Regions from separate parts of the Homo sapiens genome. Here regions 1, 3 and 4 are each linked to region 2. The links come from fine-mapping of genetic effects on gene expression. A gene starts in region 2. Each other region holds a variant in brackets. All regions are shown on one strand. Distances are between the middles of the regions.

Region 1 (2,682 bases), 45 kb before region 2:
AAGACCAGCCCGGCCAGAATGGTGAAACCCCGTCTCTACTAAAAATATAAAAATTAGGCCAGGCGCGGTGGCTCATGCCTGTAATCCCAGCACTTTGGGACGCCAAGGCGGGCGGATCACGAGGTCAAGAGATCGAGACCATCCTAGCTAACACAATGAAACCCTGTCTGTACTAAACAAAATACAAAATATTGGCTGGGCGTGGTGGCGGGCGCCTGTAGTCCCAGCTACTGGGGAGGCTGAGGCAGGAGAATGGCGTTAACCCGGGAGGCGGAGCTTGCAGTGAGCCGAGATCGCACCACTGCACTCCAGCCTGGGCAACAGAGCGAGACTCTGTCTCAAAAAAAATTAAAAAATCAGCTGGGAGTGGTGGCAGGTGCCTGTAACTCCAGCTACTCGGGAGACTGAGACAGAAGAATCACTTGAACCCGGGAGGTGGAGGTTGCAGTGAGCCGAGATCGCGCAATTGCACTCCAGCCTGGGCGACACAGCGAGACTCTGTCTCAAAAAAAAAAAAAAAAAAAAAAACCCAAAAAACAAACAAACAAAAAAAACACCTCCGTCTCTACAAAAAAAATTAGCTGGGTGTGGTTGTGTGTATCTGTACTCCCAGCTACTCTGGGCTGAGGCAGGAGAATGGCTTCAACCCAGGACGCGGTGGCTGCAGTGAGCCTAGATCGCTCCACTGCACTGCAGCCTGCGCGACAGAGCGACACTGTCTCAGAAATAAATAAAATAATAAAATATGTAATTTATATAATTACCTAGATCCAATGCTGTATGTGGAAACTAAAGGAAAAAGAAAAAGAAAATTAGCTGGAGGAAAAATATGGTAATGTGTCCCCCCACCGTTTTGTTATTTTAAAGGAAAGATAAGGCCAGTCCTGGTGGCTCATGGCTCTAATCCTCCCAGCTTGGGAGGCCAAGGTGGGCTGATCACTTGAGCTCAGGAGTTCAAAACCAGTCTGGCCAACACAGCGAAACCCTGTCTCTACAAAAAATACGAAAATTAGCTGGGCCTGGTGGCGTGTGCCTGTAATCCCAGCTAATTGGAGGCTGAGGCAGAAGAATCGCTTGAGTCCGGGAGGCAGAGGTTGCAGTGATTCCGGATCGCAACGCTGCATGCCAGCCTGGGAAATTGGAGTGAAACCATGTCTCGAGGGGAAAAAAACAAGCATAAATAATAGCGGGTGAAAATAACTCGGGTGGGGCTGGGCATGGTGACTCACACCTGTAATCCCAGCACTTTGGCAAGAGGCCAAGGCGAGAGG[A/C]TCACTAGAGGTCAGAATTTTGAGACCAGCCTGGCCAACATGGTGAAACTCCATCTGTACTAAAAAGACAAAAATTACTCACGCCTGTAATCCCAGCACTTTCAGAGACCGAGGCAGGCAAATCACCTGAGGTCAGGAGTTCAAGACCAGCCTGGCAAAACCCTGTATCTAGAAAAATATAAAAATTAGCTAGGCGTGGTGGCGTGCACCTGTAAACCCAGGAGGCAGAGGTTGCAGTGAGCCAAGATCACACCACTGCACTCCGGCCTGGGCAATAGAGCAAGACTCCATCTCAAAAAAAATAATAATAATAATAAAAATACAAAAATTAATGGCCGGGCATGGTCGCTCATGCCTGTAATCCCAGCACTTTGGGAGGCTGAGGCGGGCAGACCACCTGAGGTCAGGAGTTCGAGACCAGCCTGACCAACATGGAGAAACCCCATCTCTACTAAAAATACAAAATTAGCCGGGTGTGGTGGCACATGCCTGTAATCCCAGCTACTAGGGAGGCTGAGGCAGGAGAATCGCTTGAACCTGGGAGGCGGAGGTTGCGGTGAGCCGAGATCGCGCCATTGCACTCCAGCCTGGGCAACAAGAGTGAATCCCTGTCTCAAAAAAAAAAAAAAAAAAATTAGCTGGGTGGCGGGGCAGGATGGCTCACGCCAGTAATCCCAGCACTTTGGTAGGCCGAGGCAGGTGGATCACCTGAGATCAGGAGTTCGAGACCAGCCTGGCCAACATGGTGAAACCCCGGCTCTACTGAAAATACAAAAATTAGCCAGGTGTGGTGGCGTGCGCGTGTGATTCCAGCTACTCAGGAAGCTGAGGCAGGAGAATCGCTTGAACCTGGGAGGCTGCAGTGAGCTGAGATCCTGCCACTGCACTCCAGCCTGGGTGACACAGTGAGACTCCATTTCAAAAAAAAAAAAAAATTTAGTCTGGGGTGGTGACACGGGCATGTAATCTCAGCTATTCAGGATGCTGACACAGGAGAATAGATTGAACCCGGGAGGCAGAGGTTTCAGTGAGCCAAGATCGCACCACTGCACTCCAGCCTGGGTGACACCTAAAAAATATATATATATATTTTTAATATAAATATAAAATATTTAAATATAAAATATACATTTTATATTTATATTAAAATATATATAATAGGCCAGACACAGTGGCTTATGCCTGTAATCCCAGCACTTTGGGAGGCCGAGGTGGGCTGATAATTTGAGGTCAGGAGTTCGAGACCAGCTTGGCCAACATGGCAAAACCCCGTTTCTACTAAAAATACCAAAATTAGCCGGGCTTAGTGTCAGGCGCCTGTAATCTCAGCTACTCGGAAGGCTCAGGCGGAATAATCACTTGAACCTGGGAGGCGGAGGTTGCAGTGAGCCAAGATCGCGCCGCTGCACTC
Region 2 (2,680 bases):
GGTGGCTCACACCTGTAATCTCAGCACTTTGGGAGGCTGAGGTGGGCGGATCACGAGGTCAGGAGATCGAGACCATCCTGGCGAACACGGTGAAACCCCGTCTCTACTAAAAAAATACAAAAAATTAGCCGGGCGTGGTGGCGGGCGCCTGTAGTCCCAGCTACTCGGGAGGCTGAGGCAGGAGAATGGCGTGAACCCAGGAGGCGGAGCTTGCAGTGAGCCGAGATTGTGCCACCGCACTCCAGCCTGGGTGACAGAGCGAGATTCCGTCTCAAAAAACAACAGCAACAAAACAAAACCCTCGAGGGGCCACTCTCCTGTCTTTACTCCTTTTCCCTTCTCTATTCTTTCACCAGAAGCCCTCATTTGACCAGTGAACTCCTAGGCCCTCTTGACCCGCACATTAGCTGGGCGATTTCCTTGTTCTGCTAATTCCTAATTCTGCTTAAAATGTATTTGGATTTCTGTTTTTGAACACTTATGATGCCAGGCACTGTAATGCTTGAAACCCGATCTTTCCCTAGAGAATGTAACATACGTTTTTATTCATTTAATCACTTCATTATGCCGGGGTTAATTATGTTTATTTTATAATTGGTAATAAAGGCCACATTTATTTTTGTAACTGTTTAAAGAGCGACCACCTGTGGAGTACCGTGTTTACGAATTTCCATGCAGAAAGAACAACGTTGACCTGTAATTTGTGTCGAATATATGGAGATCCCTCATCTGAGAATTATGTAACAAAGCGTGGGGCAGTTTACTCAAAGATTTTACGAAATGAGCCAGAGTAAGACGATTAGTGGGATAGGTGTCTGAAGGTGCTGGCGGCCTCTGAGCTCTGACCCTTTGCGGGGAGAACAGGCAGCAGGTGGGTGGGCGCGGGGCCCATTCATAAAAACCAGTGTTCCTGGCCTGCTTCTCTCATTGGCCCTGGGGGCAAGGGGCGTGCCCCGCGGGTGGAGCGCGCCCGGGGCCCAGCAGAGTGGGCAGATCCACGCTTAGGTGGAGCGAGGGGGCGTTCCTTGGCTTTCTAGGCTGGACTTTCTCTTCCCCTTGCTGCGTCCCTCCTCTCCCCCGGGGTGGGCATGGTACGTCCCGCCCTCCTCGCATTCCCGTCCCTCCTTCCCTTCCGGAGCGGTGGCATCGCCGCCATCTTGGCATTCGGGTTGCGGGAAAGAGCCAAACCCTGGCGTTGGGGGGCCCGGGCGGGGAGCCCCTCCCGCGGTCCACAGCGACGCCTGCCCAGCCCTCCTCCCCTTCCGGCTCCGGCACGGGGCCCCGAGGCGTTCGGAGGCCAGGCGGGTTTCTGTCAGGCCCGGGGAGGAGGGGCGGGCGGGGCGGCCGCTGCCTCCCCGGGACGGGCCGTACCACGCGGACGGGGAGGACGGGGCCAGGGGACTGCAGGGCGGCTGCACCGCCCGGGGGCGGGGTGCGGAGCGGGCCGGCGGGCTCCCCGGGGCGGGGCGGGAGGGCGGGGCGTGGGGCGGACGGAACCACCGGGGCGGGGTGGGAGGTAACGGGACGGGCGCGACCATGGCGCGGTGAGGGAGCGGGGGTGGGGATCGGTCCGGGGGAGGCCTGAGGCCGCTGGCTTGTGCGCTGTCTCCGCCGCCCCCCTCTTTCGCCGCCGCCGCCGCCGCCCCGGGCATGTCGTCCAACTGCACCAGCACCACGGCGGTGGCGGTGGCGCCGCTCAGCGCCAGCAAGACCAAGACCAAGAAGAAGCATTTCGTGTGCCAGAAAGTGAAGCTATTCCGGGCCAGCGAGCCGATCCTCAGCGTCCTGATGTGGGGGGTGAACCACACGGTAACCAGCTCCTGCGCGCCCCTCTGAGCGCGGCCCCGCGCGCTCCCACGCCCCCTGCAGCCCTGGGCCCTTGCCCCGCAGGCCCTGCCGGTGACGCCTGCCACCCCTCGCCAAGCCACTTGCACGCCCACCCCACCCTTGCACGCCTTTCGGCCCCGTGTGCACTCCCCGCACGCCACGCGAGGCCTGGTGTCTCTGTGGTCTGCCGTCGCCACCTCCCCTTCCCTCCAGCCCTTCTGGCTTCCTGCGTGTGGCGTGCTCGCTTGGGGCAGCCCATGGAGCGCAAAGGCAAGGCCTCAGTGCAGTGGAGTCGCTTTCATCCCTGCTTCTCCTCCTCCCCCCTCATCCTGTTTGTGAGGGTGTATATTCCCCCTTGTTCCTTACAGCCGGCTGCCAGCTCTGTCAAGTAGCAGTGGTCTGCCCAAATAGTCCTCTCTTTCTGATCGTTTGGTTGTTGTGGCTGCTCAAATTCTTCCATCCTCCAGGCCTCCTTACCTTTGAATGTAGAACTCCACCCTGGGTTTCCTTTTTTTTCCCTCTTGAACAAGATGTATCAACTGGAGAAGCACAGGCTTCCTTGAACCAGACACTTCACCTGGGTCTCTCTGGGTTAGGGAGAAGAAAGAATGGCTATTAACCATTTGAGAGAAGAGGATGCCTGGTTATAAGGAGGGACTATTCATAGTAGAAATAATATGTCTTCCCATAGTTTTTGAAGGTGATCATTTTAAAGATGTTGACTTATCTGTTGTGTGGCTGCAATGTTGTGATGATGCATAGTGATTATGGTCCTAGATAGGAGAGATAGGTCCCCTGGGTCCTTAGGGTGCTTTGAGATTGTTCAACAGCCCCTGCCAGGAAGTTGGATCCT
Region 3 (2,682 bases), 30 kb after region 2:
CTTTTCTCAGCCCCAACATGATAAGGATGGAGCTGAGCCTTGTGTCTGGGGGTTGTAGCAGTGCCCAGCTGCTGTCTGCCCTTCTCCTGCCCCCTCTTCCTTCTTCCCTGCTCTCCTTGTCCCTCCAGGTTCCCCCAAGAAGGAGGTGTATTTCATGGCCATCATTGATATCCTCACGCCATACGATACAAAGAAGAAAGCTGCACATGCTGCCAAAACGGTGAAACACGGGGTGAGTCCTCTCCATCTTCATCCAGGGCCCAGCTGGGTCGGTGCATCTGTGCTTACCCTCAGACCCCAGGGAGGGCAGTCTCAGGCCTCCTGCTCCAAGGAACACACTCCTGTCTCCTTCTTCCCAGGAGAGCAGACTGGAAGAGCAGCCTGCCTGCCTTGCCATGTTCCCTGCCTTCACCCACCTGCTCCCTGCCAGGCTGGGCCCAATTTGTTTATCCCCCAGTTCTCCAGCCCTCGGGGCCAAGCCTGCCAGTGTCTTTCCCCAGGGCCTGCTGGGCCTGTTGTGCATCTTGTTGAAGGGCGAGTAATAGCTTTGTTTCCATGCCCATACTGCTCCCCACAGGCCTGTTTCCCTGTGGGCCTGAAGCCCTGTTCTCCATGTAGTGGCCCCCACAGAGATCCAGAGCCGCGTTGCCACCTCCCCACTGCCTTTCTTCTACTTCGGTGCAGGCCTGGGGTTATAAATCACAGGAGTGGGGCCAGGACAGTTCAGGACTTGTATGCCACTTCCTGAGGTGGTCTGCTCAGTCTTGGTGGGGTTGGGGGTGGTATTCAGCTCTGATACTGAGTAAGAGGCTTCTGAATACCCTGGCTCCCCCCATGTGCAGCCTCCTGATTGGGGCACAGGAACTCAACCTGAATCAGCCTCTTGTGTATTACAGGCAGGGGCCGAGATCTCGACTGTGAACCCTGAGCAGTACTCCAAACGCTTCAACGAGTTTATGTCCAACATCCTGACGTAGTTCTCTTCTACCTTCAGCCAGAGCCAGAGAGCTGGATATGGGGTCGGGGATCGGGAGTTAGGGAGAAGGGTGTATTTGGGCTAGATGGGAGGGTGGGAGCAGAGTCGGGTTTGGGAGGGCTTTAGCAATGAGACTGCAGCCTGTGACACCGAAAGAGACTTTAGCTGAAGAGGAGGGGGATGTGCTGTGTGTG[C/T]ACCTGCTCACAGGATGTAACCCCACCTTCTGCTTACCCTTGATTTTTTCTCCCCATTTGACACCCAGGTTAAAAAGGGGTTCCCTTTTTGGTACCTTGTAACCTTTTAAGATACCTTGGGGCTAGAGATGACTTCGTGGGTTTATTTGGGTTTTGTTTCTGAAATTTCATTGCTCCAGGTTTGCTATTTATAATCATATTTCATCAGCCTACCCACCCTCCCCATCTTTGCTGAGCTCTCAGTTCCCTTCAATTAAAGAGATACCCGGTAGACCCAGCACAAGGGTCCTTCCAGAACCAAGTGCTATGGATGCCAGATTGGAGAGGTCAGACACCTCGCCCTGCTGCATTTGCTCTTGTCTGGATTAACTTTGTAATTTATGGAGTATTGTGCACAACTTCCTCCACCTTTCCCTTGGATTCAAGTGAAAACTGTTGCATTATTCCTCCATCCTGTCTGGAATACACCAGGTCAACACCAGAGATCTCAGATCAGAATCAGAGATCTCAGAGGGGAATAAGTTCATCCTCATGGGATGGTGAGGGGCAGGAAAGCGGCTGGGCTCTTGGACACCTGGTTCTCAGAGAACCCTGTGATGATCACCCAAGCCCCAGGCTGTCTTAGCCCCTGGAGTTCAGAAGTCCTCTCTGTAAAGCCTGCCTCCCACTAGGTCAAGAGGAACTAGAGTACCTTTGGATTTATCAGGACCCTCATGTTTAAATGGTTATTTCCCTTTGGGAAAACTTCAGAAACTGATGTATCAAATGAGGCCCTGTGCCCTCGATCTATTTCCTTCTTCCTTCTGACCTCCTCCCAGGCACTCTTACTTCTAGCCGAACTCTTAGCTCTGGGCAGATCTCCAAGCGCCTGGAGTGCTTTTTAGCAGAGACACCTCGTTAAGCTCCGGGATGACCTTGTAGGAGATCTGTCTCCCTGTGCCTGGAGAGTTACAGCCAGCAAGGTGCCCCCATCTTAGAGTGTGGTGTCCAAACGTGAGGTGGCTTCCTAGTTACATGAGGATGTGATCCAGGAAATCCAGTTTGGAGGCTTGATGTGGGTTTTGACCTGGCCTCAGCCTTGGGGCTGTTTTTCCTTGTTGCCCCGCTCTAGACTTTTAGCAGATCTGCAGCCCACAGGCTTTTTTGGAAGGAGTGGCTTCCTGCAGGTGTTCCACCTGCCTTCGGAGCCTGCCACCCAGGCCCTCAGAACTGAGCCACAGGCTGCTCTGGCCAGGAGAGAAACAGCTCTGTTGTTCTGCATTGGGGGAGGTACATTCCTGCATCTTCTCACCCCCTCAACCAGGAACTGGGGATTTGGGATGAGATATGGTCAGACTTGTAGATAACCCCAAAGATGTGAAGATCGCTTGTGAAACCATTTTGAATGAATAGATTGGTTTCCTGTGGCTCCCTCCAAACCTGGCCAAGCCCAGCTTCCGAAGCAGGAACCAGCACTGTCTCTGTGCCTGACTCACAGCATATAGGTCAGGAAAGAATGGAGACGGCATTCTT
Region 4 (2,682 bases), 35 kb after region 2:
GAGTTACTCAGGTGTTGGGGGCTAGAAGGGACAGTGCGTTTAAACAACACTCAGAGCTCTGGCCTTAAACCTGTGGCCCCCCAAGTCTAGGAGCCTCATCTCTTCCTGGCAGTCATGCGGGCAGGAGGTCCTGAAAGGGAAAACCCATTCAGACAACTGTTCCCCAATCTACCAGCCATCTGCAGGGGTCAGTGACCGTGGCCCTCTCCCTCCTCTAGAATGTGCCACTTATGAAGAGTGCCCCATGGGGAAAAGGAGACTCAGCTGTCCCTTGGCAGCTTGTGCCAGTATCCCAGGGCAGAAGTTTCCACAGGAGCCTCTTGCCCTTGCGCAGAGCCACTGTGAGAGGCGGTGGGAGCCAACACCCTTGGGGGAGGGGGCAGTACTGCTCGGCACATCCCAGCATCAGGTCAGATCATTGAAATTAAAAAATGTGAATTAAGTTCATATCCACCTTTTGGGGAAGCAGGACAAACCACCACCCCACCAAGTGTGTGACTTCTCCATATCCCACTGCAGTTTCCATTTTTTAAATGGGAATTTTCAATCCCCTGTGCTTGTCTAACGTCTGCTTTAAAAAGTTTGAGACCCTGTTACTGTTTGAAAATGCATGCATGTTACGATGAATCTCCAACCTGAGGAAAAAAATAAAACTCAAAAAGCTTTGTGTACATCTGTTATGTGTGAGTCCTTGGGAAATGAACCTTTTTTTTTTCTTCCCAGAATTAAAAAGTTTTGGTCCTAGCTTTAGAGGCAGCTTCGGCTAAATCAATGTATGGCTTGAGTTTGGAGAAAGAATATGGTCAATGACATCCCGCTTTCAGATGCAATTAATAAACAGTGGTTAAAAGCACAGCACCACTGGCTGGGTTTGGTGGCTCACGCCCAGTACTTGGGGAGGCCAAGGCAGGAGGATCACTTGAGCCCAGAAGTTCAGTACCGGTCTGGGTAACATAGTGAGACCCCGTCTCTACAAAACAAGAATTAGCTGGATGTGATGGCACATGTCTGTAGTCCCAGCTACTCAGGAGGCTGAGGCAGGAGGATCACTTGAGCTTGGGAGGTTGAGGCTGCAGTTAGCCATGATTGCACCACAGCACTCCAGCCCTAGCAACAATGAGACTCTTAAGGAAAAAACAAACAAAACACCACAGCACCAGAGCCAATCTGCCTGTTAGCTGTTACTACCATGCAC[A/G]TGGAAGAATGGACAACCCCCCCCCCGCCCCCCCGCCTCCAGCTGTGTAGAACGAACTCTGGCTAGGAGCCACTCACCTGACATAACTTTGAACATGTCACCTCTGTGCACCTCATCTACTGCATCTGGGCATTTAGCTTAAAACCCAGTAGTTCTCAAAGTGTGGTCTTGGACCAGCAGTGTCATTAGCACCTGGGAGTCAGAAATGTAAATTCTCAGGTTCCAACCCAGATCTACTGAATCAAACTTTTAATGAGCCCTCCAGGTGATTGTGATGGGGGCTAACGTTTGGGAACCACTCTGCTATGCAAACTTTCTACTTGCTTATTAGGCCATCTATGTACTGCAGATTGCAAGCTGGAATCACTTGGGGAATTCTGGAAAAGACAGGTACCCAGGCCCCTAAAAGGCCAATTGGAATCTCAAGGGGTGGGATCAAGGTATGTGTTTTAGGAATTCCACAGGTGACTAATGAGCTGGCCAGGTTAAGAAACACTAATCTAGACTACTTATGGGTACTTGACCAAATTTCTACCTGAAGCAATAAAAGATGTAAGGGTTTTCCCGTAGAGTTTGAGTGAAAAGGATTCTAAGCTCTGGCATCAATGGAACATGAGTTTATGTCCTGGCTTTATCACTTATTAAAGTAGACTTGGGTAAGTTATTTAACTGTCCTTCTTCTCCAAACAAGGATAATCTCAACTACCTTGAGTCATTATGATGAATAAATTCTAGATCGTGTAAAGCACTTGTGTGGGGCCTAGCACACAGGGAGCATGCAGCAAGTGACATGTGGATTGTCCCCACTGGCACGCACTGATGGAGTAGAGCACGAGCCAGAAAGCAAGCCGAGGGCCAGGCCACACACACTTGAGTGGCTGGCTGTAGCTGCCCAGCTAGGGCAGAGATCTGCAGGAAAGCATCAAAGACAAAAGCAGGAGTGAAAGACAGGCTATTTTATTTCAAAAAAAGAAAAAAAAGTGGGCTCTGGGAACAGGGTTAGTCCATTCGGGCCTTCAGTGTCCTGGTGGTGATTTTGTCCTTCTCGCTGCAGAGGGAGAAAATCACAAGAAAACATCTCTACCCATCTGGACCGTGACTGTGACTAGCTCTCCTGGCCCTCAGCACCAAGCCCTCAAGCCCTGCGGCAAGGGAGCAGAACAAATAGCTGCCCGCTGCCTCTAGGTGTAACTATCCTGCTCTAGTTCATTCCTGCTAGCTCATCTCCTCCGCCTGTGGTGAGGAAGGAGGGATAGGAACAGAGACCTGGGCCGACTTTCCACAGGTGGAACCACCTCAGGGAGGCTTTCCCAGAAAATGATTCAGGGCCAGACTTCACAGCTCTCAAAAGAAGGGAAGGAGCTTGGCCGGGCGCGGTGGCTCATGCTTGCAATCCCAGCACTTTGGGAGGCCTGAGGCAGGCGGATCACGAGGTCAGGAGTTCAAGACCAGCCTGACCAACATGGTGAAACCCCGTCTCTACTAAA

Alleles and levels. Alleles are on the strand shown, and positions count from the first base shown. SD is a standard deviation of normalised expression in the study named. Not every link is listed here.
For the expression in whole blood of the gene that starts at base 1,519 in region 2, A is the low allele of the variant in region 1 and C is the other (small effect, 0.19 SD a copy in Lepik 2017).

What was found. PIP is the estimated chance that this variant, and not a neighbour inherited with it, causes the effect.
Region 1: its variant is the best candidate, but not a certain one, in a credible set for the expression of PIP4K2B in whole blood (Lepik 2017, PIP 0.87).
Region 3: its variant is the best candidate, but not a certain one, in a credible set for the expression of PIP4K2B in blood mononuclear cells (TOPMed, PIP 0.73).
Region 4: its variant is the best candidate, but not a certain one, in a credible set for the expression of PIP4K2B in tibial nerve (GTEx, PIP 0.80).

What each region holds. Positions count from the first base shown.
Region 1 is chr17:38,842,959-38,845,640 of GRCh38, reverse strand. LOC124903994 (a long non-coding RNA gene) reads right to left here. Exons shown (of 3, transcript XR_007065743.1): 2 at 765-789. Among named protein-coding and RNA genes, the nearest start is that of SPMAP1, 2.9 kb to the right of the region's middle. The variant A/C (reference allele first, on the strand shown) is at 1,272.
Region 2 is chr17:38,798,395-38,801,074 of GRCh38, reverse strand. PIP4K2B (phosphatidylinositol-5-phosphate 4-kinase type 2 beta) reads left to right here and starts at 1,519. Exons shown (of 10, transcript NM_003559.5): 1 at 1,519-1,809. The coding sequence starts at 1,651. It overlaps CWC25 (CWC25 spliceosome associated protein), which reads left to right. Exons shown (of 10, transcript NM_017748.5): 10 at 1-634. RefSeq lists an enhancer at 1,524-2,342.
Region 3 is chr17:38,767,986-38,770,667 of GRCh38, reverse strand. PIP4K2B (phosphatidylinositol-5-phosphate 4-kinase type 2 beta) reads left to right here. Exons shown (of 10, transcript NM_003559.5): 9 at 129-232; 10 at 897-2,682. The coding sequence ends at 977. Among named protein-coding and RNA genes, the nearest start is that of PSMB3, 17 kb to the right of the region's middle. The variant C/T (reference allele first, on the strand shown) is at 1,171.
Region 4 is chr17:38,763,680-38,766,361 of GRCh38, reverse strand. PSMB3 (proteasome 20S subunit beta 3) reads right to left here. Exons shown (of 6, transcript NM_002795.4): 6 at 2,137-2,243. The coding sequence ends at 2,195. It overlaps PIP4K2B (phosphatidylinositol-5-phosphate 4-kinase type 2 beta), which reads left to right. Exons shown (of 10, transcript NM_003559.5): 10 at 1-671. Among named protein-coding and RNA genes, the nearest start is that of PSMB3, 12 kb to the right of the region's middle. The variant A/G (reference allele first, on the strand shown) is at 1,196.